Linked DNA regions of Homo sapiens. The protein of the gene in region 2 interacts with the protein of the main gene of each other region in a pairwise test. Each region holds a gene or a part of one and is shown on either strand. Other genes may lie near its edges.

What was found.
Region 1: the proteins of MYCBP2 (region 2) and RGPD8 interact in a two-hybrid assay, tested with the Homo sapiens proteins (one large-scale study listed by BioGRID and IntAct).
Region 3: the proteins of MYCBP2 (region 2) and TBR1 interact in a two-hybrid assay, tested with the Homo sapiens proteins (one large-scale study listed by BioGRID and IntAct).
Region 4: the proteins of MYCBP2 (region 2) and CUEDC2 interact in a two-hybrid assay, tested with the Homo sapiens proteins (one large-scale study listed by BioGRID and IntAct).
Region 5: the proteins of MYCBP2 (region 2) and ARL6IP5 interact in a two-hybrid assay, tested with the Homo sapiens proteins (one large-scale study listed by BioGRID and IntAct).
Region 6: the proteins of MYCBP2 (region 2) and SPARCL1 interact in a two-hybrid assay, tested with the Homo sapiens proteins (one large-scale study listed by BioGRID and IntAct).
Region 7: the proteins of MYCBP2 (region 2) and TBC1D9B interact in a two-hybrid assay, tested with the Homo sapiens proteins (one large-scale study listed by BioGRID and IntAct).

Annotation. Positions count from the first base shown.
Region 1 is NC_000002.12:112,367,594-112,371,639, reverse strand, and holds the end of RGPD8 (RANBP2-like and GRIP domain-containing protein 8), read left to right. Parts: intron 1-1,427; coding exon 1,428-1,462; 3' UTR 1,463-3,271; downstream 3,272-4,046.
Region 2 is NC_000013.11:77,043,672-77,047,797, forward strand, and holds the end of MYCBP2 (E3 ubiquitin-protein ligase MYCBP2), read right to left. Parts: intron 1,823-4,126; coding exon 1,707-1,822; 3' UTR 986-1,706; downstream 1-985. UniProt on the Homo sapiens protein: Atypical E3 ubiquitin-protein ligase which specifically mediates ubiquitination of threonine and serine residues on target proteins, instead of ubiquitinating lysine residues.
Region 3 is NC_000002.12:161,422,449-161,426,605, forward strand, and holds the end of TBR1 (T-box brain protein 1), read left to right. Parts: intron 1-920; coding exon 921-1,779; 3' UTR 1,780-3,422; downstream 3,423-4,157. UniProt on the Homo sapiens protein: Transcriptional repressor involved in multiple aspects of cortical development, including neuronal migration, laminar and areal identity, and axonal projection.
Region 4 is NC_000010.11:102,429,479-102,434,104, forward strand, and holds the start of CUEDC2 (CUE domain-containing protein 2), read right to left. Parts: upstream 3,097-4,626; 5' UTR 3,048-3,096; intron 1-3,047.
Region 5 is NC_000003.12:69,091,069-69,095,225, reverse strand, and holds part of ARL6IP5 (PRA1 family protein 3), read right to left. Parts: intron 1-4,157. UniProt on the Homo sapiens protein: Regulates intracellular concentrations of taurine and glutamate. Negatively modulates SLC1A1/EAAC1 glutamate transport activity by decreasing its affinity for glutamate in a PKC activity-dependent manner.
Region 6 is NC_000004.12:87,472,287-87,475,214, forward strand, and holds the end of SPARCL1 (SPARC-like protein 1 isoform 1 precursor), read right to left. Parts: intron 1,518-2,928; coding exon 1,489-1,517; 3' UTR 1,049-1,488; downstream 1-1,048.
Region 7 is NC_000005.10:179,873,144-179,877,300, forward strand, and holds part of TBC1D9B (TBC1 domain family member 9B), read right to left. Parts: intron 2,895-4,157; coding exon 2,777-2,894; intron 2,045-2,776; coding exon 1,759-2,044; intron 106-1,758; coding exon 1-105. UniProt on the Homo sapiens protein: May act as a GTPase-activating protein for Rab family protein(s).

The DNA.
Region 1 (4,046 bases), on a different chromosome or scaffold from region 2:
AACATTTAATTAAAAACCTGTACACAATTATTCGTAGAAACTTTCTTTAAAATTGCTAAAAACGAGGAAGATCTCAGTTATCCTTCAACTGGCAAATGAATAAACAAACTGGTACAGCCGTGCAATTGAATACTGCTCAGCAATAAAAAAGAATGCACTGCCAGTTCAGCAACATGGGTAATTCTCAAATGCATTATGCCAGTTGACAGAGGTCAGACTCAAAATACTATGTACAGTGTGATTCTACTTATATGACACTGAAAAAAGCAGAACTATAAGGACAGAAAACAGGTTAGCGGTTGCCAAGGAGTGGGAGAAGCAGCCAGGGAGAACTTTGAGGAGATGAAAATGTGCCAGGCCTTGGTCGGTGGTGGTACGTAACTGTGCATTTGTCAAGACTCAGTGCTATATGCTGAAAAGGGCAGGTTTTACTATAAGTAAGTTGTACCTCAATAAACATGATTTTTAAATGATTAAAACTTTGGTTTTTGTTTGTTGTGGTTCAGTTTTAAGGTTTCCCATAAATCTATTGGTTTTAGATTCTAAGTTGTATATAAGCTTCTGTTTTAAAAGAATTTTTTTTAAAATCCTCTTATCGTCAACAATATTTAGTTGTGCTGGAAATTTTATTTTGGAATTGTTTAATAGAGAAAGACAATAAATAATGTTCAAGAACAGACATTGATTCATAACATCAAAGTATATTGTGAGAAGATGGTATTTCAGAATAGAGGAAGAATTTCTTATGTGCTGGTAAGATTGTTTGTAGATAATCATTTCTGCATAATTTTCATAGCTGGATTGCTTTAATAAAGCCATTTAAAGGTTAAGTTCTAGATTGCTTCATGTTGCTTATCAATGTTTTAAAGCTAAAATAGAAAATTAGCTGTTAAGTTGGCTCAACCGGAAATTCAGTATATCCTTTAAAAAGAGAAATTTAGTAAGCAGTGTGTCTAAAGAATGACATATGGTTGGGTACAGTGGCTCGTGACTGCAATCCCAACACTGTGAGGCTGAAGTGGGAGGATCACTTGAGCCCAGGAATTTGAGACCAGCCTGGAAAACAGTGAGACCTGCATCTCTACAAAAAAACAAAAAATTACCCAGGCATGGTGGTACACACCTTGTGGTCCCAGTTGCTTGGGAGGCTGAGGTGGGAGAATCACTTGAGCCTGGGAGATCAAGGCTGCATTGAAGTCTCATCACGCCACTGCACTCGAGCCTGGGTGACAGAGCAAGACCCTATCTCAAAAAAAAAAAAAAAAAAAAAAAAAAAAGAACCCCCCCCCCCACCAAAAAAGGCATGTGATCAGTAAAAAAGACATTATTTGCTTATATTGTAGAGTGGTTCTAAAATATAGATTTTACATTGAGAAATTTTAATACTCTCTTTTTTCTTTTTTTTTTCTTTGTTTTACTTTCTAAAGATGAGGAAGAAAATCCTTCCCGTTCTTCTGGATGAGCATCCTATCTTCGTAGTTGGTTTGGACTTCGATAGGTTGATGGAAGGAATACTTCTATTAACCAAATAGAATCTGTTTACAAAAATGGTTCGTGTGTGTTACCATTATTCTTTTGTCAAAAAGTGTGTATATGTGTTTGCATTTACATATATTTGTACATCTGTATGACAGATGTATTTTAAAAGTTTCAACTTGAAGTAAAAGTACAACAGCTTGAAGTGTTGATACCAGGCCACAGCCCTCTAACTCATGTGATCTCCCATGCATGCTGCCAGAATAAAACCACCAGGAATGAATTCACTCCCCACTTCTCTGGAACCTCAGGACCCGCCCATTTCTCGGCAGTACTGTGAATTTTGAAGTTAAACTAAATTTTGGTACCATACCAACTGGAATTTAGGCTTTAAAAATAATGTTTCAAGGCCAGGTGTGGTGATTCATGCCTGAAATCCCACTACTTTGGGAGGCTGAGGCTGGAGAATCGCTTGAGGCTAGTGAGCTGTGATTGTACCACTGCACTCCAGCTCGGGGAACAGAGCGAGACCTTGTCTCTAAAAATAATAATAGTAATAAAAATAACGTTTTATGACTATTTATTGCAAGGTCAGATTTACAGATTGTTATAAATTGTTGAGAAATTTTTGTGATTAGAATATGAAGGAAAAAGCTTTGTTGGTAAAAGTGACATGTTAAGGGGCTATGAAGTAAATATGCTGCAGTTAATTGTGCTAAGTTAAAATACAGTTTAGTTATTTGCTTTAAAATAAACTCTTCTTTTTTTCTTTAAAGTATACTACCTCAAAACTCATTATGTTGTCAGAGCCCTAGAGCTGGCTAGTGTAACACTGACTATGAGTAGGTGGGCCCACCACTTGAGTTGAGGTGATTTCATGGTGTCTTTCCAGGCTCTTGATAGGGTGTCACTGCATGCAAGCCATGAATCTGTTTTGAGAATCCTCTCCATTTTCCCAAATAAAAACCTATCCCAACAGTGACTATATCACTCAGCATTGGATCTAAATATAAAAGTGGTGCTTTCAGTGTTTTTGGCAGATAGTGTTCCATAACCTTTCCATCAGAAGGGATTTTAGACACCTTAGAGGTCCGTGCTACATCTTCACAGTTCCTCCGAATAACCTTAGGTGGTAGTGTTACTTGCCTTTGACACCTGTGCATATGTTTTAATGACTAGATCCAAACTGTGTTGTTCTTAAATCAAAAATTGGATAATTTTTAATATTTATGTATTAATCACACAGTGTGCTCTCTGAAGTTCTCTTAAGCCTTCAGTTTATACTCTTAATTTTCTTTCTGAGCTGGGGAACTGACTTTGCACTTTGGTTACACAGAACATTGGTTTCCAATTTAGTTTAACTGAAATTTGCTGCTGATATGTTGAGTTTGTTCTTTAAAAAATATCTCATATATCTCGTCTTTCCTCCTTAGAAGAACAGACCTAACTAGCGAATGTATGAATGAAAATGCATCTATTTCAGAGCCGACATGAAGAGTTTAGTTTTTTTACTTTATAAACTGTGAATATGAGTATGCCAGCTGCATTAGATGTAACTAATCATATTTAAATATATTTCACTTTGACTTTAGACCTTTTGAAGTCTGTATAAACTTGTTTTGAAATACAGTCTCCACTTACGAATGTCATAACAAAATACTTTTTTGCATGATAAAAAATTACTTTGATTACAAAAGGCATATTCTTTCATGGTTTCTGCAATGAGAGGAAGTGTAATGATTATTTTAATATTTCTATTAAAACTGTATATTTTTATGGCTGCTCTTTTATGTTACCCACTGTCTCTTTGGGGTTGTTAATTGGTTTCTGAAAGGGAACTTCAAACTCCTTTACTACTGGCCTTCCATGGTTGGTCCCTATTAGGTTGTTGTGAGAACGTCGACCAACTCTTTGATACCCGCCAGGTAGACCGTAGTACCTGCCATGTCTGACACCCTGCATCCAGCTAAAACCAGAAACAGCGCTGGGCCTCCCTGTGGACAAGACATTGATTTGACCAGAAGCAGATGTCTGGCTAAGGCTGCCAACCAAAGGGTGGCCTTAGATGAAGGGCTTTGTTCAGTTAGGGGCAGAGGTCATTAATTTTTTTTTTTTTTTTTGAGACAGAGTCTTGCTCTGTCGCCCAGGCGTGAGTGCAATGGCGCGATCTCGGCTCACTGCAAGCTCTGCCTCCCAGGTTCACGCCATTCTCCTGCCTCAGCCTCCTAAGTAGCTGGGACTACAGGCGCCGGCCACCATGCCCGGCTAATTTTTTGTATTTTTACTAGAGACAGGGTTTCACCGTGTTAGCCTGGATGGTCTCGATCTCCTGGAGGTAATTTATTTCTTTGGATGTTTGGACTAGGAGATGGGGAGAGGCAGAGCAGAAAGAGAAACACAGATGCCACAAGGAGGAGGAACAGAGCTAACCCTGGATAGGACTGGACACAGCAGCCAGACCAAGAGAGGCATCTAGTGAGAAGCAGCTCTTCAGCCCTGGGCCTGGTGCACACATCACTCCTTGGTTTCTAAGAACCAAATTTGGCCCAGCACAGTGGCTCATGCCTGTA
Region 2 (4,126 bases):
GGGAGGCCGGAGGCGAGCGGATCACCTGAGGTCAGGAGTTCAAGACCAGCCTGGTGAAACCCCATCCCTACTAAAAATACAAAAATTAGCTGGGTGAGGTGGCACACGCCTGTAGTCCCAGCTCCTTGGGAGGCTGAGGCAGGAGAATCGCTTGAACCTGGGAGGTGGAGGTTGCAGTGAGCCAAGATGGTGCCACTGCACTCCAGTGTGGGCAGCAGAGTGAGACTGTCTCAAATACAACAACAACAACAAAAGTTTTGCTAATCTGATGTATGATGAGTCAACAATCAATAATTTGGCAATTTCATGACTCGAGTGTCAAAAAGATGTACCTAAACACACCGTTGTCTATAGAAAATGAATAAAAAATTAGTGATTTTATTACTTTATATGAACTTCAAAAAGGGGCTGGGTGCAATGGCTCACGCCTGTAATCCTAGCACTTTGGGAGGCCAAAGCAGTGGGGATTGCTTGAGTCTAGGAGTTTGAGACCAGCCTCGGCAACATGGCAAAACCCCATCTCTACAAAAATTACAAAATTAGCTGGGCATGGTGCTGGTGCATGCCTGTAGTCCCAACTACTCAGGGGGCTGAGGCTGGAGGATCGCTTGAGCCCAGTTGGAGGCTGCAGTGAGCTGAGATCACGCCGCTGTACTCCAGCCTGGGTGACAGTGTAAGACCCTGTCTCATAAATAAATAAATAAAGTTAAAAATGCTGCTAGTTAAAATAGAAGTTAATTTCCTAAATGCTTTCTTCTGTCTTTGGTATGAATATATTTACCTACGAATATATATATATATATTTATGATCTTCTGCTTAGGGTTTAAGATTCCAACATTGCACTTCATTACTATTCTTATTTTCTCTAACAGTTTTGAAAATTATGAATGTGTTGTGTTAGTAAATTTCTTTCTGAGGAAAACTGGACTTTTAGACCTTAAAGGTGTTCAAATTTTGTTTTTTAAACAATACCTCCCACAGTGGTAGACTTTATCACTGTATAAAAATGTACAGTGGTTTTATTGACATGTACATTCCAATATGTTTACAGCTGCAAGATAATGAGGCACACTCAGTATTGCACTTCATTAAAATTTCAGGCTCAAACTTAACCTAGAAGTTTAAATGAAATTGCATTTGTAATTTAGTAATTCTTATACAGGACAAACATTGATATGTTTATATACAGTGTGATACTTATTACATTTATATGCTGTCCTAACACAATGTTTTTTTTTTTTTTAAATAACAGTCTAGGAAATAAACCAGAATATTCCTCTTTTTATCCCCACCCGTGATGCAATTGTACAGGATTACAAAAAGGCAGTATACAATAAACAATGATTATTTTTCTTTTTTGCTTGAAAGCCAGCATCGTTCTTAGTCCATGGGCATGGCGATTCTTTTATATCAATTATCTATAAATGTCCAATGCTTCACAGGCCAATGACGGTAATGGCCACATGCAAACACCTCACAAGTTTGATGTCATTTGTTCAAAAGAAGATAAACCAAAATAATGGGGAAACTTTTCATAGCAAGAATTATGTACATGGTATTTGGTATCCTTCTTGCACTGTGAATGGTTCATTTTCATGGATGTAAAAATGGTCCCGTCCTTATCCTGAGCAGAGTTTAAACTTCACCGCATCCTCTTGGGGGATGAAGGCAATTTTTCTCTCTGTAGACAAAGGATCTGCGTGTTCTAAAAAGTGTGGGCATTTCTGCACACTCCACATCCCAGAGCAAACTCTTCCCCAGTGGGTGGATGAACAACATGGAGTGGACATTCAGTTCCTTCTAACTGCTTGCCTTTGGGACCTGTATAAATTTGAAGGAGGCAAAGGAAAATAATGTTTTAAGAATACACACATATAAACCTCACAGAAATATAAATCACTGATAGGTTATTCAAAGAAATAACATGACTATGGTTATACAAATATAACATTTAGAAATTTTTCTTCTGATCACAAAAGTAAAAAATGTTCACTATAAAAAATTCAACACAGATATGTACAATGGAAGAAGTGATGGGGTCCCTTACTCACTATATCCTGCCTAGAGAGGATCACTTCGAGCTACAGATCTTTTTCTATTAATAAATGCATCAGATATATCATTTTAAAACAGAGTAATGAACAAAAAAGGTCACAAAACCCCTCAATTTAGTCTGGCAGAACATTATTTTTCTGAATAGAAAACAGGGAGATTTTTGTGTAGAATGTTTTTCTATAAGTAAAAACATTTAAGTTTAAAGAAGCCATGTTTTCCCTTTTATTTTTACTGATGAAAAAGCCCACACTGGTAAAATGGGAAGGCCAATGATTCCTGTAATTTTTAAAAGTACCTGAAGGATATTAGCAGGAAAATGAAAGTTATCAGGTTAAAAACATGAACAATGTTATAAAATACAATGTGGAAAAAACACTTTGGGGAAGATATGAATTTGTTGATAATAATCAAAGTAGGCCTATCAAATGTACCAAAAACAGTATTTTAAAAAAGAAAATTATTATATTAATGTGCTTCACGTCATGGGTTTCATATCATTTAGAAAAGATTTTTAGTTCCTTTAGAAACCAGGAGGCTTACTTTGTCAGAAAAACACGCTAGGCTTATACTTGAAAGCAGAGTCCCTATTTAATAGTAGATGAAGGAATAGGAACTCTGCATTAGTTTTCTACAGCTAGTTTTCAAAATAATAAATCTAAATTCTGATTGTGCTTGAGAGAAAAATATCACGAGATTGGATGGAATGAGCTTACACTGATCAATGAGGAATGACGTCTCATTTACTTTACCTTTTCTAGGTTTAAAAACATTTCTGACATAAGAGAAGGAAACCATGATGGATAAAAGGCTAGCATTTATAAAGCTCTTAGACTGCACAGTATAATACCCAATAAATGTTGGCTATTACTACTATTACTGAACAACCACAAACTGAGGCCTGATCTAGAGGAATAAAAAGTAAGTTCTGTACAAGAGTAAGACCAAGACATTAGAGTGTCAAACTGAAGACAGCTAATCTCAGAGAAGTCAACTTCAGGTTAGAGCTAACAGGCATGAGAGTGGCAATGAGTGCCACCTCAGACAAATGCAGGCACAGACCTCAGGATGGGTCAGCATGGGAGGATGCCAGAGGTTTGCTAGAAAGTTAATTATTCCTGTTAGAAAGTAGTTCAGTAGCTCCTGCTCCAAATCACACTGCAGATTGGTGCCCACCCCACCAGTGGGTGGGGGAGAGTGCGCAGGATGGGGACACTCAATGGCAGATCTAGTTCAGATACACAACATATCAATGGTGGTGACACAAACTGCAGCCCTTGGGTTTTTTCAAGGAAAAAATGAGTCATTTACTCAACAAATATTTACCGCATGCCTAATATATGAAGGGCATTCTTAGGTACTTGGGATTAAAGATGAAAAGTGCATGGCTCCCATCTTCAAGGTGTTCACAATCCAACATGGTGGTGAGAAATAAAAATAGTGAAAACACACCTGCAAACATCTGAGTGCTTACTACTGAGGCACTGTTCTAGTATATCAGCTACTTAACCATTTAACAGTCATAGGAGGCAGAAACGATTATCCTCATTTTGTAGATATGAAACTGAAGTAAAATTATTTTTTCTGATTCTTAGATACCTCATCTTTAAAATAGACACAGCAATACCTAACTCATGGGGTGCTGTGAAGATTAAGTATCCTGGCACGAGAAGGTAGTCAATAAATATTTTAGAAAGAAATGGATAGAGGGATTATGCTATGGTCTGGATGTTTTTGTGCTCCTCCAAATTTATATACTGACGTGTTAATGAAAGGAGTTAGTTTGCCTTAGGTAGATAGCAAGGGAAGGGTCCCCAGAGAGCCCCAGGTCCACAGGTCAGTGCCTCATCCCCATATAACATAAAAAGCAGTTGGGGAAAAAAAGTCAAGCTGCAGGCACCGATGAGGGAACTAGCACAGGGCATTGTGCCTAAAGACATGCCCACGGCTGCACAGACAGAAAAACCTTCAATCAGATAAAGGACAAGACCTGGGATAGAAATGCCTTTGTCCTTTGTATAGTCAGGGGGCTCTCTCCTTTTGTGGGCATAGGCACAGTGGGCTCCAGTGGGT
Region 3 (4,157 bases), on a different chromosome or scaffold from region 2:
TAAAAGTTACCTAGCTCACAGTGCCTGGCATATAGTCGAGCTCCGTAAAGGTTAGCTATTATTAGTGGTCCATTGCATGGAGTAGGCTGATAAGTACACTGTAGGTTTGCCCCGAAGTTTCTGCGGGTAACGGACCAAAAGCTAGGAAAAGAAGGTCAGAGTAAAGAACACCTTTTCTCTTAAGAGAATATTTCTGATTGATGACTACTGTTTCAGAGTAGTAATTCTTGTTTGTATTAGTAGAGGTGGGAGTGAAAGTTTCACACAGGGGAAACAATAGACACTAAGTACTTTGGAGGCTTCCAGCAGCAAACCTCGGGTTCCAGAACACGGGTGAAGGCCAGTCTTTCATGATTACTGCGTGCGCGGCTTTTTCCTAGGGGTTTCTGAAACAATCTAGAAAAAGGAGAGATATCACCTGAACAATCAAATGGACACAGGAGGTCTTAAAAGGGTGGAGGAGTGAGTACCTTGCTTAGAAATTTCACTCATAAACTGACCGCAGAGGAAAGGCCCACTGGGCAAAGAGCATCTTACTCCCTAGGTAAATCTGCCTTAATGTGCACACATATGTTGGAGAAGTGGGATGAAAGTCCTTGCTTGTGCCCCTCTCTCAGTACCCCAGTACACTTGACGAGAGAGAGCAAGAGAAGAGGGAAGTCGTTCCCTTGATGGTCTGTATCTTGCTCAGGTCCCTGCATAGACAGATTGGCTCCTCTATAATTCCGTGATTTATTTTGGGAATGATAGAGGTCTGTGGCCTCTTGTATTCTCCAGGAAATCCTGGACTGCAAGTTTGTAGATGGAGGGTGTGGGGGTGGGCGAAAAGTGGAGGTGGCCTTCCCTTCTGCCCCCACCCCCACCCCAAGGGACCTCCGCGCCACCCCTCGGCTCTCTCTCTCTCTCTCCCTACCCCGCAGGATCTACACCGGCTGTGACATGGACCGCCTGACCCCCTCGCCCAACGACTCGCCGCGCTCGCAGATCGTGCCCGGGGCCCGCTACGCCATGGCCGGCTCTTTCCTGCAGGACCAGTTCGTGAGCAACTACGCCAAGGCCCGCTTCCACCCGGGCGCGGGCGCGGGCCCCGGGCCGGGTACGGACCGCAGCGTGCCGCACACCAACGGGCTGCTGTCGCCGCAGCAGGCCGAGGACCCGGGCGCGCCCTCGCCGCAACGCTGGTTTGTGACGCCGGCCAACAACCGGCTGGACTTCGCGGCCTCGGCCTATGACACGGCCACGGACTTCGCGGGCAACGCGGCCACGCTGCTCTCTTACGCGGCGGCGGGCGTGAAGGCGCTGCCGCTGCAGGCTGCAGGCTGCACTGGCCGCCCGCTCGGCTACTACGCCGACCCGTCGGGCTGGGGCGCCCGCAGTCCCCCGCAGTACTGCGGCACCAAGTCGGGCTCGGTGCTGCCCTGCTGGCCCAACAGCGCCGCGGCCGCCGCGCGCATGGCCGGCGCCAATCCCTACCTGGGCGAGGAGGCCGAGGGCCTGGCCGCCGAGCGCTCGCCGCTGCCGCCCGGCGCCGCCGAGGACGCCAAGCCCAAGGACCTGTCCGATTCCAGCTGGATCGAGACGCCCTCCTCGATCAAGTCCATCGACTCCAGCGACTCGGGGATTTACGAGCAGGCCAAGCGGAGGCGGATCTCGCCGGCCGACACGCCCGTGTCCGAGAGTTCGTCCCCGCTCAAGAGCGAGGTGCTGGCCCAGCGGGACTGCGAGAAGAACTGCGCCAAGGACATTAGCGGCTACTATGGCTTCTACTCGCACAGCTAGGCCGCCCCTGCCCGCCCGGCCCCGCCGCGGCCCGGACCCCCAGCCAGCCCCTCACAGCTCTTCCCCAGCTCCGCCTCCCCACACTCCTCCTTGCGCACCCACTCATTTTATTTGACCCTCGATGGCCGTCTGCAGCGAATAAGTGCAGGTCTCCGAGCGTGATTTTAACCTTTTTTGCACAGCAGTCTCTGCAATTAGCTCACCGACCTTCAACTTTGCTGTAAACCTTTTGGTTTTCCTACTTACTCTTCTTCTGTGGAGTTATCCTCCTACAATTCCCCTCCCCCTCGTCTTTCTCTTACCTCCTACTTCTCTTTCTTGTAATGAAACTCTTCACCTTTAGGAGACCTGGGCAGTCCTGTCAGGCAGCAGCGATTCCGACCCGCCAAGTCTCGGCCTCCACATTAACCATAGGATGTTGACTCTAGAACCTGGACCCACCCAGCGCGTCCTTTCTTATCCCCGAGTGGATGGATGGATGGATGGATGGTAGGGATGTTAATAATTTTAGTGGAACAAAGCCTGTGAAATGATTGTACATAGTGTTAATTTATTGTAACGAATGGCTAGTTTTTATTCTCGTCAAGGCACAAAACCAGTTCATGCTTAACCTTTTTTTCCTTTCCTTTCTTTGCTTTTCTTTCTCTCCTCTCATACTTTCTCTTCTCTCTCTTTTAATTTTCTTGTGAGATAATATTCTAAGAGGCTCTAGAAACATGAAATACTCAGTAGTGATGGGTTTCCCACTTCTCCTCAATCCGTTGCATGAAATAATTACTATGTGCCCTAATGCACACAAATAGCTAAGGAGAATCCACCCAAACACCTTTAAAGGATAGGTGTCTGTTCATAGGCAAGTCGATTAAGTGGCATGATGCCTGCAAAGCAAAGTCAACTGGAGTTGTATGTTCCCCCCACCTTCTAAATAGAATAGCTCGACATCAGCAATATTATTTTGCCTTATTTGTTTTTCCCCAAAGTGCCAAATCCATTACTGGTCTGTGCAGGTGCCAAATATGCTGACAAACTGTTTCTGAATATCTTTCAGTACCCCTTCACCTTTATATGCTGTAAATCTTTGTAATGAATACTCTATTAATGATATAGATGACTGAATTGTTGGTAACTATAGTGTAGTCTAGTGAAGATGAATTGTGTGAGTTGTATATTTTACTGCATTTTAGTTTTGAAAATGACTTCCCCACCACCTAGAAACAGCTGAAATTTGACTTCCTTGGGAGAACACTAGCATTAATGCAAGTAAGACTGATTTTCCCCTAAGTCTTGTTATATTTGATAAGGAGCATTAATCCCCCTGGAAATAGATTAGTAGGATTTCTAATGTTGTGTAGCAAACCTATACTTTTTTGTATTTAAAAATTAATGTGAAATATGCATCATACACAATATTCAATCTAGATTCCAGTCCATGGGGGGATTTTTCCTAATAGGAATTCAGGGTCTAAACGTGTGTATATTTTGGCTCTTCTGTAAATCTAATGTTGTGATTTTTATATTTGTTTCGTTTTGTCTGTGAACTGAATAATTTATACAAGAACACACTCCATTGAGAAACGTTTTGTTTTTTGCTCGTTTGTATCGTCTGTGTATAACAAGTAAAATAAACCTGGTAAAAACGCTAACTATGGTGTTTGAAAGCAGTTTACAGTTTGAAAATAATTTAATTATTATAGGTGATGATATTTAAGGGTTAAGGAAGACTAGCCCGTCCCCACTCCAATATGGGCAGCCTGTTTAATGGAAGCCACCTCCCATTCCCCCCTTAAATTTGTTTTATAGTACTTCCAGGAGCTACTTTTTTCTTCTTATTTATAATTATTTAGCTACCTATGAGCCAAGTCTCACTTTTCTGCGCTCATTTTCTTTTTTCAGGAAAACATATGCACTTTTCTCATCATATTTATCTGATTCTCTCTGAAGTTGGAAATAATGCGAACAGGAAAAGGAGGTTCTTTAAATAAGGAGTTAAGAATTTCTTTAAATTTCACAGAGTAAGGCGGGAGGCGTTGGCCAAAAGTAGGGTGTAATTTAAATGCATGTCAAAATAGGATGTTGACCGCAGATTTAGTAAATTCTGGTTGTACATACGAGGCCTTGGAGGTGAGTGGCGAATCTGTAAACGCAGACACAGAACAGCCTACATTTCTTGAGTGGATGGTTTCCGAAGACTGGGCAGGGGTAGGGTGGCGAAAGACACGTAGAACAAACTCGCGAAAGGGTCGTTTTTTAACCACTGAGCTTAAAACTGCTTCTGGGAGGCATCTGGGCTGGGGGTAGGGGCACTGCTCTATCCCTTCTGTAGTGGAATCTTATGCCAGTCCTATCCCTGCCAGATTCACACCTGGGGAACAAATGCA
Region 4 (4,626 bases), on a different chromosome or scaffold from region 2:
TTGGGACAGGGCTACCTTCTATGCTTACAGTTGCCTGGTCCCGAGTGGTAACAGAGTTGCTCATAGCACAGGGGTCACTTTGGAAAGCAGGACTGAGAAGCCCCAGCCTACCAGGGGAATTCATACCACCTGCGCCAGAGCCCTCATGGGCCCTGAGGAAGAGCAGAATGGCTCAGCCCAGGCATACTAGATCCCATCATGCAGCTCCCTCAGGGTAGAACCGCCTCCAGGGACCTACCTCGACCCTGGGTTACATCACCCTCGAATCCTGGGCTGTCAGTTGCATGGTAGCCTCTGCCGGGACAAAGGCCCATGGCTGCTGCATGAAAGCCCAGTTTCTTTCTTTTTTTTTTTTTTTGAGACGGAGTTTCGCTCTTGTTGCCCAGGCTGGAGTGCAATGGTGTGAACCTGACAGGGTCAAGCAATTCTCCTGCCTCAGCCTCCTGAGTAGCTGGGATTACAGGCGCCTGCCACAACGCCCAGCTAATTTTTTGTATTTTTGGTAGAGACGGGGTTTCACCATGTTGGCCAGGCTGGTCTCGAACTCCTGACCTCAGGTGATCTGCCCACCTTGGCCTCCCAAAGTGCTGGGATTACAGGCATGAGCCACCTGTGTGGTGGTGACTGAAACTTGGCTGAAAGCCCAGGTTTTCTTTTTTTTTTTTTAATTTTATTTATTTATTTATTTATTTATTTATTTTACTTTTGAGACAGAGTTTCACTCTTGTTGCCCAGGCTAGAGTGCAATGGCGCGATCTTGGCTCACCGCAACCTCCACCTCCTGGGTTCAAGCGATTCTCCTGCCTCAGCCCTCCTGAGTAGCTGGGATTACAAGCATGTGCCACCATGCTCGGCTAATTTTGTATTTTTAGTAGAGACAGGGTTTCTCCATGTTGGTCAGGCTGGTCTCGAACTCCCGACCTCAGGTGATCTGCCCGCCTAGGCCTCCCAAAGTGCTGGGATTATAGGCGTGAGCCACCGTGCCCGGCCTGAGAGCCCAGTTTCTAGGGAAGAAGCTTCTCAGGGATGTGTCTCATGCTTCTGGGTTTTTAGCCAAGGCCTGGGGGCCAGGGAATTTTTAGGAAACTCTTCACTGTCCCCAAATAAAAAGACTTGCTCCCCTAAGCTTTTCTCTAGTTTGTATTCCAAGGGAACATCCTCCCTCCCTCCTCCTGTTTTTGGTCTACCCAAACTTCACCCAGGCTTCTAAGCTCTTTTACCCTTCCCCATCCCCGGTAGCCTTCCTAAGTACATCCTTCCTGCTCAGGGGCTCCTAATACTTCTCCCCGCATAGCCCCTGAGTTGGGGAAGATCTGGTCTGCCAGACTGGTTTCCTAAGTAGCACCTAAGCAGCCACCCTTCTCCAGGGTAAGAACATGATTTCCATGAGACATTTCAAATTCCAGATGTAGCCCACAGAACCCCATTGCTTCTTGGGGGCCGCAAATTAGAGATCATTGGTTGATGGTGTCTACCAAATGTGACTGTCATCCTGTCATGAGTCCTGCCTAAATGCCTCCGATGATGGTAATATTAGCATTTATTGCCTCTGCTTACGAGGCATTGTCCTAAGCACTTTTACATGTATTAACTTACCTAATCCTTACAATAACTCTAAAATGTAGATACTGTTATTCTCCCCATTTTATTTTATTTATTTTATTTATTTATGTATTTTTGAGACGGAGTCTCGCTCTGCCATCCAGGCTGGAGTGCAGTGGTGCGATCTCAGCTCACTGCAACCTCCACCTCCCTGGTTCAAGCAATTCCCCTGCCTCAGCCTCCTGAGTAGCTGGGATTACAGTCGCATGCCACCATGCCTGGCAAATTTATTTTGTATTTTTTAGTAGAGACGGGGTTTCACCATGTTGGCCAGACTGGTCTCGAACTCCTGACCTCAGGCAATCCACCCGCCTCGGTCTCCCAAAGTGCTGGGATTACAGGCATGAACCACCGCGCCCGGCCGTATTATCCACATTTTACCTGAAAGGAAATGAAGGCACTATGAGGTTAAGTAACTTGCCCAAGGTCACAAGGCAAGTTAATGGCAGATTTACACCCAGGCTGTCTGGATCCAGAACCCTCACTGTTAACCACCACACTACATCACCTCTCACGATGCAAATTGTGTGGCCCCATCCTATATTCTGAATCTCCTCTCCTGCCTGGCTGGCTATATTGTCTATTTCAGAATCTTTGCTCACACCACTCTCCCAGCCCAGAGCATCTGTCCCTCTGCCTCTCCAAATCTCATTCTGCAGGACTCCCTTTCTGCAGCCAACCCTAACTGCCCCACCTTCACTGCTCCCAGCTAGCCTGGGAGCTTCCCAAGGGCAGCACAGGCCTGGACCCTCCAGATGCTAGATAGAGACACTGTGGACAAATTTAAGTGAGAGTGGGGTAAGAAGTACTATGCTGCTCCCTTGGGGTGGGGAGGTGCTTAAAGTGGAGGGAGAGCAGGCCATGTGGGAGGAGGAATCCTGGGAGCTAGTGTGAAAGGAGTCCTAGCGAACTTCTCAGGGAGGCAGCAAGGGGTCTAGCATGGAAGGTCTTCACTGCTTCTCCCAGCCCCTGTGAAGCCCGGTTCCTGAGGCCCTGGACCCATAACGCAGGCCCCAGAGGATATCATTGTCCTCTGATACCCAAGTCAGACCTTAGAGGCACCAAGGGCATTGAGGGGAACAAGGGATCCCTGCATCCAAAGTCAGGCGGGAGCACAAACAGGGAGGGCGAGCACAGGAAGTGGGACCGCGATGATGGACGACCCCTGAAGCAGCAGCTCCCTAAACCCGCTAGCGGGACACCCGTAAGCGTCCAGAATAGTGGGCCCGAAGGCACAGGGATGCGGCTGTGGCCTTGGAGGACACATGACGAGGCAGGCCTGAGCAAACTGGATGTGCCTTGATACAGGCCACGGCGAGAATCAGAGATGGGGGTCCGACGGGCCCCGGGGGGGGTACCGTGGGGGAACACATCGGACGGGTACCCTGGGTCAGCGCTCTCCGCGACTCTCCTAGCCCTGGGCCGGGGGCAGGAGGGGAAATCACCTGCTCCGTCGGGCGCCGCCGGCGACTTGTCCCGCGCGGTGCAGCTCTCATCCCCCAGCCCCACCAACGAGATCAAAGGCGGGGCCCAGAGCGGTTCCCTTCCAGAGGCGCCGTGGCGGCCATGTTTGAGAAGGGCAAGTTGCCCACAACAGGGCGGAGCTCCTGCTCTAATTCTCTAACGTCCCAGGGCTATGGACGGGCTCCCTTGGCGGCCAGTTTTGTTGCGCGTAGGGAGGCGTTAGGCGTGAAGGTCTTGAGAGGGGGTGGAGTCGAAGTGGGTAGGACTGCATCCCCGTCTTGTTCCTTCTCATCCGTCAGAGACCCGAAACCTTTCTCTTTCTTTCTCTCTCTCTTTTTCTCGTCTCTCTCTCTCTCTCTCTCTCACTTTTTTTTCCTTTTCTTCTTCTTTTTTTTTTTTGGGAGGGAGCCTCGCACTGTCTCCCGGGCTGGAGTGCAGTGGCGCGATCTCGGCTCACTGCAACCTCCGCCTCCCGGGTTCAAGAGATTCTCCTGCCTCAGCCTCCCGAGTAGCTGGGATTACAGGCGCGCGCCACCACGCCCAGATAATTTATTGTATTTTTAGTAGAAACGGGGTTTCACCATGTTGGCCAGGCTGGTCTCAAACTCCTGACCTCGTGATTCGCCTGCCTCGGCCTCCCAAAGTGCTGGGATTACAGGCATGAGCCACCGCGCCTGGCCTCTTTTCTTTTCTTCTTTCTTTATTTTCCTTTCTTTCCCTCCCTCCCTTCCTTCCTTCTCTTTCTTTTTCTTCTTTTCTTGCTGTTACAGCCCCAGGCTGGAGTGCAGGTTCACGAGTGCGAACATGGCTCACTGCAGCCCCGACCTCCTGGGTTCAAGTGATCCTCCCATCTCAGCCTCTGGAGTAGCTGGAACCACAGGCGCGTGCCACCACGCCGAGCTAATTTTTTTTTTTTTTTTTTTTTTTGTAGAGACAGGGTTTTTGCCACGTGGCCCAGGCTGGTCTCTTAGGTACTGACTTCCCCACCCTGTCTGTACCTTTTGCATTCCCTTAACAGCAATGTCTCCCCTAGATTGGGGTGAGCTACAGGTCTGTGTCTCCGGAGGGTGGAGCCTGGGATTTTGGACGTGGTCTGGGAGAGGTGGAGTGGTAGCAGGTGCCAGGATGAGGATCCACCTGAGCCCTGTCATGGACAGCCTGTAGACCATGCCTACCCCCCGGGGCCTTCATCCCCCATGTTGGCAGGGCTGCTTGTCTAGGACAGGAGAGCTGAACTCCAGGGCCCAACAAGACTTCAACTTCCTCTTTTTGTTCCTGCTGCCACAGATTCCCGGTGCTGCCCTGTGGGGAAGCCCCACAGCCCTCCCCTCTTGGGAACCCTGAAATGGGTCACAAGGGGAAGAGTCCCCTTCAAGGATAAAATTTCCCATCCCCCATCAGCAGGGATGAGCCCTTTTTAGTGCTAGTTCCTTCGTGGGGTGCTGGGGACCCGGAAGCTGTCCCTGCCCTCAGGGAGCTCACAGTCCAAGAGAGAAGTCCCATCTTTCCTCTCTCCTAGGGACTAAGGCAGTGCCAAGATACTATGCTGCAGTGGCTCAC
Region 5 (4,157 bases), on a different chromosome or scaffold from region 2:
GAATCAGTCTAGTCCAATTATACAGATAACTAAACTGAGGCCCAGAGAAGAAACATATCCAAAGGGATCCAGGAGAGAAACAAGAAAACAAGGGTGCCAGTTGTGGCAGCAACTCACAGTAGAACCCATTCTGTCATGTTAACCGGCTTTAAGGATTTCCCCCACACTCTAAGTAACCTACTATAACCAAGGATCATCCTGGAAAATCCCTCTGCACTCTCATTTCTCTCTGAAACAAGGTGGCTATTAGTGGGTGTGGATACAGGTCCTAAACTTCCCAACGTGATTCAGTAGCTATGTCTATAGTTTTACCACAAGTTACTGAAAGGGGAAAAAAAAATCTCACAAAATTTTAGAGCTAGGAAGGATCTTGCTAACCCACCTCATTTTACACGTAAGCAAGCTAAAGAATATACAAGTTAATAAATTTGTCCAAGGCCACCAATTGCAAAGTTGGCAATAAAAGTTTGCCATAACAGAAATCCTCGGATCAACTCAAGGCCACATTTGGTGACTCCTGTCAGGCTGCAAGGCCAAAAAGAACCACCAAAGAGGCAGCAAAATATTTCCTGAGGAGTACAGGCAGCTTTGCACTGAGTTCCAATTTTCTAGCCGAAAAAGCTATTTTTGAAGTGTGGTTTCTGAGGAAGGCTGACTCACCGAAAAAGTGGGGAACAATATACTCACGGTGGACTTCTCTAAATTGGCGATGTTTCTCTGTGGTCCTTAATCAGCCAGAGGGATCACTGCAAATATGAACCCACCCAACCATTTTCTTTTCATTGTTCTTAAACTAAAAACAGAATTCTTTAAACATTCTACAAGGCTTCGCAGGGTCTGGCCCCTGCCTGCCTCTGCAGCCAGGGCCACTGTATATAGGTGTGGAGTTGGTGCCTGGCTGAGGGGGTAAGTGGGGCCTGGAATCCAGGTCACACACTCCACAAGCCAAGGCCAAAATTTGGCTTTGGCTGTAACTGCTAGGAGAGGAAGAAGTGCCTTAGTAATTAGCATGAGGGAACTCTCAGGGCTAGCAGCTGGCCTACCTGCCAGGTTTGTCACACCATCTCCTGATTGCACCCCCATCCACTCAGGGTTTCTATCTACCCCAGAACTCACCTTGCCTTTTGCCATCTCAGGGTGAGGTGAATCAGGCAGAGAGGATACTTTGCACACAGGCCTCACTCCACCCTCCTTCAAGTCTCAGCTCAGCCAGCCTTTCCTCAGTCTCTCTGACCAGAGCACAGCTCCATATGCCTTTTCTTTTCTTTCCTCAAGAAAGGTTCTTCCTCTGTCACTCAAGCTGGAGTATGATGGCATGGTCATAGCTCACTGCAGCCTCTTTCTCCCACACTCAAGTGACCTTCCTCAGCCTTCTGAGTAGCTGAAACTACAGACTACAGGTGAGTGCCAGCTTGCCTGGCTAATTTTTAATTTTTTTCTTTTCTTTTCTTTTTTTTTTTTTTTTGAGACAGAATCTCCCTCTGTCGGCAGGCTGAAGTGCAGTGACACAATCTTGGCTCGCTGCAACCTCTGACTCCCTGGTTCAAACAATTCTCCTGCCTCAGCCTCTCCAGTAGCTGGGATTAAAGCATGCGCCACCACACCCAGCTAATTTTTACATTTTTAGTAGAGACGATGTTTCACCATGTTGGCCAGGCTGGTCTCGAACTCCTGACCTCAAGTGATCTGCCTGCCTCAGCCTCCCAAAGTGGAGAGCTATTTTTGACTATAGGCATAAATGTGGGCTTTGGACACAAATTCGTCTTGAGTAAATGAGAACAGTGTCTCCTTGGCCTAAGGATCATGGAATAAAGGAGACTGTACAGTAGGTAAAACTGAACAGGAGCCTGTCTCTTTTGTTACAGAAAGGTCATAGTGAGATTTTCCTAACCAACTGAATTAGGAAGGCCTAGAGGATTTATTGTATTCTTGCCATTCCCTAAATATTTACTGTATCCTGTGTAATTTGGCACAAATTAAACACTCGCATCCAAACCAACCATTGTCTTTTTAACAGTTGGCATGTTAAAAGTGTTCATACTAAGACATGCCTTAGGAACCTCCAGATTTTCTTTTGTTTTTAATAAACAACAGGTTGGACTCGGATTAGAAACCATAAATCTGACGCTTCCCACAGTGACGGAGCTTCAAATAATAGTTGTGTACAAAGCTCTGATTAGACTTCATAAAACCCTTTTTAACTTTTCATTATGGAAAACTAACATATACATAGGTAGAGAGAATAATGTATAATGAATCTTCATGTATGCTCATCACTGCTTTCACAATTAGCAACCCATGGTTACTCTTAACAACCAATACTTTTTGGGGAACAGAAGTGGAAAGATATTTGTTTACAAACTGTTCTTCTTGAATGATTTTAGAAAATTAAAAAAAAAAAAAAAAGGCTGGGTACAGTGGCTCACACCTGTAATCCCAGCACTTTGGGAGGCTGAGGTGGGGGGATAACTTGAGGCTAGGAGTTCGACACCAGCCTGGCCAACATGGTGAAACCCCGTCTCTACTTAAAAATACAAAAATTAGCCAGGCATAATTGTGTGTGCCTGTAATCACTTAAAAATACAAAAATTAGCCAGGCATAGTTGTGCGTGCCTGTAATCCCAGCTACTTGGAGGCTAAGGCAGGAGAATCGCTTGAACCTGGGAGGCAGAGGTTGTAGTGAGCCAAGATCCTGCCATGGCATCCAGCTTGGGCGATGCAGAGAGACTCTGTCTTAACAAAACAAAACAAACAAAAGCTACTGAGAACTGTCACATGGCAAATTCTTACAGAGCTGTGGAGAGAAGACAGGGGCTGGACAAATGCTAACGAGCTTGGTAACACAGACTTCCTTCTCACAAGTTTCCTGTCTATTTACCCCTCACTAACCCCCAATTTCTGCATTCTTTTTCCTCTGAGACAAGGAGAAGCTGCACCAATGAGATATGAAGCAGATTAGAAGAAGCAGGGCTTTCTGCCTTCCAGGTGTCTCCTTTAGCAAATTGCATAACGAGAAGGAAGGCCAGGAAATCCTATCATATATCAATGATGAATGCTTGCAAACCTGAAGTTGTTAGCCTGAAGGTTTTGCCTAAAATTACAGGGCTTGAAGGCATTCTCAGAAACAGGAAGCCACGCTCATTTCAAGAGACAGAGGATGGTATTAAGGGTGAAGGCATTCTCAGAAACAGGAAGCCACGCTCATTTCAAGAGACAGAGGATGGTATTAAGGGTTAAGTTTTCTGAAGCTGAGTGATAAGGATAGAATTCATTTGTCCAAAAAATAAAAAATACAAAATTTCCAATATTGATGCTTAATTAGATATTAAGTGGGTAGGTCAAGAATGGGTCTTGACCTTTTTGAACTGGATTTCCTGTACAGAGCTCTCTGTCCCTAAGCTGATGGAGAGCTTCTCCTTTCTAAGACAGGGGGCCAGGAATCCAAAATACACTCATTTATTTGCACACTTACCTAGAATCATTGTAAATCCTTACCTAGGGAAAGGAAACAGAAACTACCAACCAAAGGCCAAAAGTAGCAGGCAACATTGAAAAAAAAAAAAAAAAAAAAGCTGGACGGAGAGGGGAGAGAAGTTCAGATAAACAAAGTTACATAAATAGTATCAAAGGTGTGCCAGCCATACCTCTCGCCTGTCATCCCAGCACTTTCGGAGACCAAGGCAGGAGGATTGCTTGAGCCCAGGAGTTCGAAACCAGCCTGGGCAACATGGCAAAAACCCTTCTCTACAAAAAAAAATACAACAATTAGCCAGGCTGGTGGCACATGCCTATAGTCCCAGCTACTTAAGATGCTGAGGCAGGAGGATCACCTGAGCCCAGGGAGGTAGAGGCTGTAGTGAGCCATGACTGCGCCACCATACTCCAGCCTGGGCAATAGAGTGAAACCCTGTCTCAAAATATATATATATGTATGTATATACACACACATATACACACATACACTGTCAGAGGTTATTTAATGAAAAGCAATCCTTATTAAAGATTTATATTTACTTATTTATTTTTTACACGGCGTCTCACTCTGTTACCCAGGCTGTAGTGCAGTGGCGTGCGTTCTTGGCTCATTGCAACCTCCGCCTCCCACGCTCAAAAGATCCTCCCACCTCAGCCTCCCAAGTAGCTGGGACCACAGATGC
Region 6 (2,928 bases), on a different chromosome or scaffold from region 2:
TATTTGAAAAAATAGTAAAAGATAATTGTATTGATATCTTTCATTTCAGCTAGAAAAATATGTAAAAAACCATTTTCTTTCAAATAGTCAAATAAAGTGAGTGACATGTCCTTTTATTGCCTTACTTCAGAACTTGGAAAACTATATTATAATGTCATATTTTTGTGATCTAGCTTTTACTGTAATAGTTACCAAAGAAGAGCGCAAATAAAAAGACAAATTTTTGCTTATGACAGGTTTTTCGCTATCAATTTACATTAATAATATTTAATCTCTTTCTACATTGGACATCAAGACGCTTTATGGCCCTCTACCTGTTTTACCATTACATTTTCTTTATTGTGAGGCAATGATTATGTGAAATTTTTGCAGGGCCGCCCTCTTCCCCAGCACACATGCTCAACTGCACAAAAAGTTAGAATTAATTGGATCAAGCAGTGCATAATCTTTCACATTTTATTTTCATTTATTTATTTTTTGAGACAGGGCCTTGCCCTGTCACCCAGGCTGGAGTGCAGTGGCACAATAGCTCACTGCAGCCTCGACCTGCTGGGCTCGAGTAATTCTCCTACCTAAGTCCACCAAGTAGCTGGGATCACAGGTACATGCCACCACCCCTGGCTATTTTTTTAAGTTTTCATAGAGACAGGGTCTCTCCATGTTGCCTAGGCTGGTCTTGAAATCTTGAGCTCAAGGAATCCTCCCGACTTGGCTTCCCAAAGTGTTGAGATTACAGGTGTGAGCCTCTGCACCCAGCTTGTTCTACATTTTATATCAAATTTGGTAAAAAAGCACTTGATATTAGTTTTTTTCTGTTTAAACTTACATAATGATGAAGGACATTAATGAGCACCTCTTATCTTGCCACTGAGTATTTGTTTCCTGTAAGAGATGTCTCACACTTTTTTCTCAACCACACACACACACACACACTTAAGGTAGTAGGGTTTAGGAAGCACAATTATAATTTGACATGAAGTGTGAGTCTTGGGTTGATCTTTTACATTTGATTGTCTAAATAATAACTGGAAATACACTTGCATAAGCATTTGGATTTTTATGGACTCTTTATTAGGGTATTAAGATATTGAAAATAATACACGTAAACCACAAAAGAGTAGCATTCCATTTTCTTGAAGTGCACATGATATTATGAACAATACAAATGCATTATTTTTATCATTAATAGTTTAATCATTAATTATCTCATAAGTCAATGCAGAGAGTGAAATTACTATGAATTAAACTTCTGTTCACAATGTACAGTATTTTGCATATGTTGACTTTACTTAATTGTACATTTTTGTTTCCAAAGTTAATGTTAAATACCTGGTGCATAGGTTGTTGTCAAGCAATTACTCTCATTGTCTTGTCATACATGCTAACATTTTGCTAAATATAAATCTACAAGTATCACAGCTGCATATATTTCTGAAGTGGTTAGAACAGAGGAGGATGCTGGAAAGTTGAGTTCTTTAAAATCTTCGTTCAAAACAAGAGATTTTCATCTATGTCCTCTATAAAAAAACAAGAAGCAAAATGACACTTTTAGAAAGTAGCCAGAGTAGTAGCACAAACAATATTAGAGTTGGGGGATTAGAGAAACCATCTAATAAGGCAGTATAATGGTGATCCTCAACTTTGGTAGGACAGCAACATCACTCATGAACTTTTACAAATATGTATTTTTAGGCCTCACCTCTGGACTCTAGAATCAGAATCCCTAGGGGTGGACTAATGGCATGTAGACGTTTAGAAAACTCTGCAGGTAATTTGGCTGCAGGGTTGAGAACCACTGATAGAGGAAGAGCAGGTTAACGGGAGGTCCAGCCAAGAAGTGCCCAGTATACTAATCTAGAAGGTGAGCTGAAAAATAATGGAAATAAATAGAAGTGTAGTGCTAGGTTATTCCAGTTTTTAATTGAGTAGCTTGTGAAAGAAATTGTCGCCATACCTGTGGAAGAAGACAGCATCCTCTAGCAAATATAAGATCACTCCTTACCAACATGGCCCACCCTAACAAACTATTATACTACTCTGTGTGGGCACTAGGTAATTTTCCTGCTAATAATCTTTATCTAGCCCAGAGAATGGGAAAGATTATGGACTTTGATTTTTTTTTTTTGAGTACTGGCTTCATATGTAAAATGGAGATAATAGCTTCATTAGTTATACGTTTACTTATATTTGCACCCATAGCCTTTGTCTTCTTTCTGTTGCTCAGATAAGAGATTGTCCTTTTTCTTGACGTTAAGGCTAATTCCTCTACCTATGCTCAAGATCTCTTCTGACCTTCACAAGATTCTCCTTTTACTTTCCTCTTTTTTTCTTACATCCTTCTTCCACCTTTCCTTTTTTACTAGACCCTTCCATTAGCATTTAAATATGTTTCATATTTAGCCTCTAGAACAGTGCCTGCATTTATGTAGACCATCTGTAAAGATTTCTCTCTCTCTCTTTTTTTTTTTTTTTTTGAGACGGAGTCTCGCTCTTTCACCCAGGCCAGACTGAAGTGGCGCAGTCTCGGCTCACTGCAAGCTCCGCCTCCCGGGTTCACGCCATTCTCCTGCCTCAGCCTCCCGAGTGGCTGGGACTACAGGCGCCCGCCACCACGCCCGGCTAATTTTTTGTATTTTTAGTAGAGACGGGGTTTCACCGTGTTAGCCAAGATGGTCTCGATCTCTTGAACTCGTGATCCGCCTGCCTCAGCCTCCCAAAGTGCTGGGATTACAGGCGTGAGCCACCGCGCCTGGCCTGTAAAGATTTCTTGAGCAAATGAATGAGTAAATGAAAGGAGTGCTCAAATCTCTTTTATTCTAAAAAATGCTCCCCTTTTTTAGAAAATGCTCTGTAGCTTTTCTAGGTCTTTCCTGCACTCAAACATCCACTCCTTACCCTTTCTAATCTCCCTTTTCTTCTCAACCCATA
Region 7 (4,157 bases), on a different chromosome or scaffold from region 2:
AAGATGTCCACCTCTGCAGGGGGGTCATCGCTGCTGCTCAGCAAGGCACGGAGGTGCGGGATAGGAGGAGAGACACTCTGCTTGTTGACCACATTATCCAGGTATCTGCAAAGGACAGAGGACAACAGTCCAGACCACGCCCAGGCAGAGGGAGCCTCCTTCCCACAGCTGGGTGATGCGGAGGGACCCAATCTTTATGCAGACTCCTAATAAGGAGTGTGCAGAGGACTGGGCACCCTGCAGGAGGGCAGAGGTGTGCCCTGGCAGCGCCCCCAGCAAGTTGGGGAGCCCTCTACAGGGCAGTGCCCCCGACAAGGCCTGAGCACTAACCCTGAGGACGCTGGGCTGTTTTCTTAGTCAGTGGGGGGGTCCCTTGGGCAGGAACGCCTTATAACCCCAGATCCTACCCAGTTGGAAGGATGACGAGCTTCCTCCCTTTGGCGGGGCCCTGGGGATGTGGGACCTTCTCGCCCTGGCCAAGAAGATTCAGGGATCAAAGGTTGAGTCGCAGGAGAAAGTCAGGTGTGGGGAGGCCTGCTGCAGCCCAGGGAATCAGCTTCTCTAGGGACACAGTCCTGGGGATGGAGCCCTACCTCTGTCAGCTGACCTAGCCCCGCCAGAGTTCATGGCCTCTCTGGGTCCCTGGGCTGAGCCTGACACTCAGGTGGGAGGAGGTAGCTGACTCCCCATGCCCATAGCCCTGGTCATATCCCCAGTCAGACCCCTGCTCTGGAGGAGGCCCTATCCGCCTATTGTAGGAAGCGGCAGGAAAACCAGCCACAGACTCCGGCCACAGGCTGAGTATCTTAACATCAGTGTGGACCAAAAGCTACTTAGGCCCACAGTAGGGAGGTGACAACCCTGCTGGATCTAGAGAGTCCCAGGCAGCACCTGGCCTGGCCATGGGCAAGTGGCAGAGTCCCAGGCTGTTCCTGGGGGCTGGGGGCATTCCAGTCCGGACAAATACGCTATGTAGGAGGGTGGGACTGCACAGAGCTCAGGGCAGGGCAGAGTGTAGCCAGGAGGGGCCGGGGCTTGAAGGCCAGGCTGGAGGCTCAGACAGTGCCTTTGTACAGAGGACCCAGGGAAGGGGCAGGGCCAGGTCTGATCAGAGTCATGGGATGCAGGCAGGTCAAAGACTGAGAGGGGAACCCCAGGGAAAGGGCATGGTGGGCCTGGGCTGAGGCAGCAGGCTGAAGGGAAGGGGCTGGATCCCAGACAGAATCTGCAAGAGATGGGATGTGGGGACTAAGGAGGGGGTGGAGGGGCTGGGATGACCCTGGACATTTGGCGTGACTAGTGGGACATCAGCTCATCCAGCTGTTCCAGCGGGCCCAGGGCAGGCCTGCTCCCTCCAGGGCATGGGGGCTGCAATGCAGCTGAGCTTGGAGAGGTATGACCGGGACCACCTGGTGGACATGAAATGCCCAGCTGTGCCACCAACTGGAATTGTGGTCACTGGATCTTGGCTCTGGTTTGCCCTCAGGGGAAGCATCTCCAACCCTACATCTGAGCGGTGGCCCTCCAGCCAGCATGCTCTGCCCGCAGTGCCTGCTTTACTCCTCCTGGCACCTATCACTGAGCGCTGCTTCATCTCCCACTAGAAAGGAGCCGCCTCCTGACCCCAGAGCACCCCCGGGTCCAGCTGCAGCCTGGCACTTGGTGGGCACAGTCACTTCAGGCTGACTGGACAGTGCCCGGGGCTGGTGAGGGGTTCTGCTGTGAGCCCCCAGCAGGAGAAGGAACCCGGCATGTCACCTGCCCAGCATGGTCATGGCCTCGCCCTCGTCGCTGCAGCCCAGCAGCTGCTCCATGTTGGCGTCCAGGACGGCCAGGGCCACCTGCAGGATCACCTTGATGCCCTCATAGAAAAAGCAGTCGACGATGACCACGGCGCTCTCGAAGGGCATGACGCTGAGGAAGAGGGTCAGGAACCAGGACAGCGAGATGCTGGAGATCACCCCCAGGTCCTGCATCTTCTCCGAGAGCTGCGGCAGGAAGTCTCTCGTGAGCTCTTCGAAGATGCCTTGGTCCACCAGGGCTCCTGCGGGCAGGATGAGCGAGGCTGATGGTGAGCCCACCCTGTGGCCTGGGTGGGCCCTCACCTGCAGCGTACGAGCCCTGGCCACTCCAGCCCTGCCAGCTGTGCAGTGAGGGCTGAGGGAGACTTGGAGTGCTGGGAGAAAACAAGGACGAAAAAACCCTTCAAGTCTCTCTACAGCTCCCAAACCACTGGGCGAAATAACTATTTCTTCTACTACACTTGAATTTTATTTTGGGGAAATACTGATTTCTCCGTAAGGCATGAGAGGTAAACAGCACCCTCAATGACTCTGTCCCATCCTGATGATTGTGAATAGACGCAGCTCTGAAGGACCCCAAGAGCGGTAACTCCAAACACCAGACAGCAGGGGAAGGACAGGATAACATGCTTAAATATGAACCTAATTAAACACTCTTGCAAGTCCATTTCCACTTCATAACAGATTTCACTGGATATGAGTTCAGTAAAGTTGAGCATCAGGTTACATGGGGGATATATACTCTCTAGTTTTGATGTTTGAAATTTTCCATAATCAAAAAGTTGACAGGAAGTTAGATGGATAGGAATTTAGGCTCTGAGGGGACTTTTATAAACCACCGAATGTGTAATACTACCCTCTAACTCCTAGGGAACCCACGTGAAGCCTGGAGCTTGGCCTGGGAAGGGCTGCCACCCTCATGGAACCAGCAGGCACCTGGAGACCCAGGCGAGGCAGCACCCGGGGACACTCACCCACCACCCTGGTGTTGTAGTAGTCGGGCAGCATGCGCTCGCACAGGGCCACCAGGAGCCAGAAGGCCTCCTCCTCACTGCCATAGAGCAGGAGCACCGAGGTCACGATGTTCATTGCCTGCCGGGCACAGAGACAGCCGGGGAAGGCTTGCACTGCTGGCCAGCAAATAAAACTGTCTCTCCCCACCCCTCCCAGCCACCCCTCCCTGCAAGGGCCCACATGATCTTCTTTTTGTTGTTGTTATTTTTATTATTTTTCAGGTTCTCGTGGTGAAGATTAATGGCCTCCTCCTACAAGCAAATCTGCCTCTTCAGGAGGGCTGGGCATCCGGTAATGAGAAACTGCCCCTACCCAACTCTGGGAAATGTCAAAAGGCAATTTGTAGGAAACTGATGGAACAGAGAGTCTGCCAACTCCTTCAAACTGGGTCAGAAGGCACTGGGAAACCAGAGAAGGTGAACATCAACACATCACACTTCTGCGGAGTGGTGTTGGGTGTTGGAGGTGGGATTATGACCAAGCTGATGTGGAGGTGAGCCACAAGGCCAGAGCCCCACACCAAGGCCACCCACTCGGTGCACAACTAGGACCACACACAGCCCTAGCTGCTAACAAGACCTTTAAGGCAAACAGAAAGCCATATGACTTGGCCAGGAAAATGCCTAGATTTAAAATCAAAAGCTGCGAGAAATGCTAACCTAAAGTACAATTAGATACCCTCATGCCCATCACTCTAACAACAACAGAATATAGCAAGTGTTGATGAGGATGTGGAGAAATCGGAACCCTTGTGAACTGCTGGTGGGAATATAAAATGGTGCAGCTGCTGGGGAGGAAGTATGGAGTTCCTCAAAAAATTAAAAATAGGCCAGGCCACAGTAGCTCACACTTTGTAATCCTAGCACTTTAGGAGGCTGAGGAGGTCGGATCACTTGAGCCCAGGAGTTCAAGACCAGCCTGGGCCACACAGTGAGACCCCATCTCTATAAAAAATACAAAAAGTAACTGGGCGTGGTGGTGTGTACCTGTAGTTCCAGCTACCCAGGAGGCTGAAGTGGGAGGATCGATTGAGCCCAGTAGGTGGAGGCTGCAGTGAGCCATGATCATGCCACTGAGATCCAGTGTGGGCAACAGAAGGAGATCCTGTCTCAAAAAAAAAAAAAAAAAAAAAAAAAGCCCAGGAATGGTGGCTGGTGGCTCACGCCTATAATCCCAGCACTTTGAGAGGCTGAGGCGGAAAGATCACTTGAGCCTAGGAGTTTGAGGCCAGTCTGGGCAAGACAGTGAGACCCCATGTCTAAAAAAAAAATATTAGCTGGGTGTGGTGGTACATGCCCTGGGAGGCTGAGACCGGAAGATCCCCTGGTCCAAGGAGCTTGA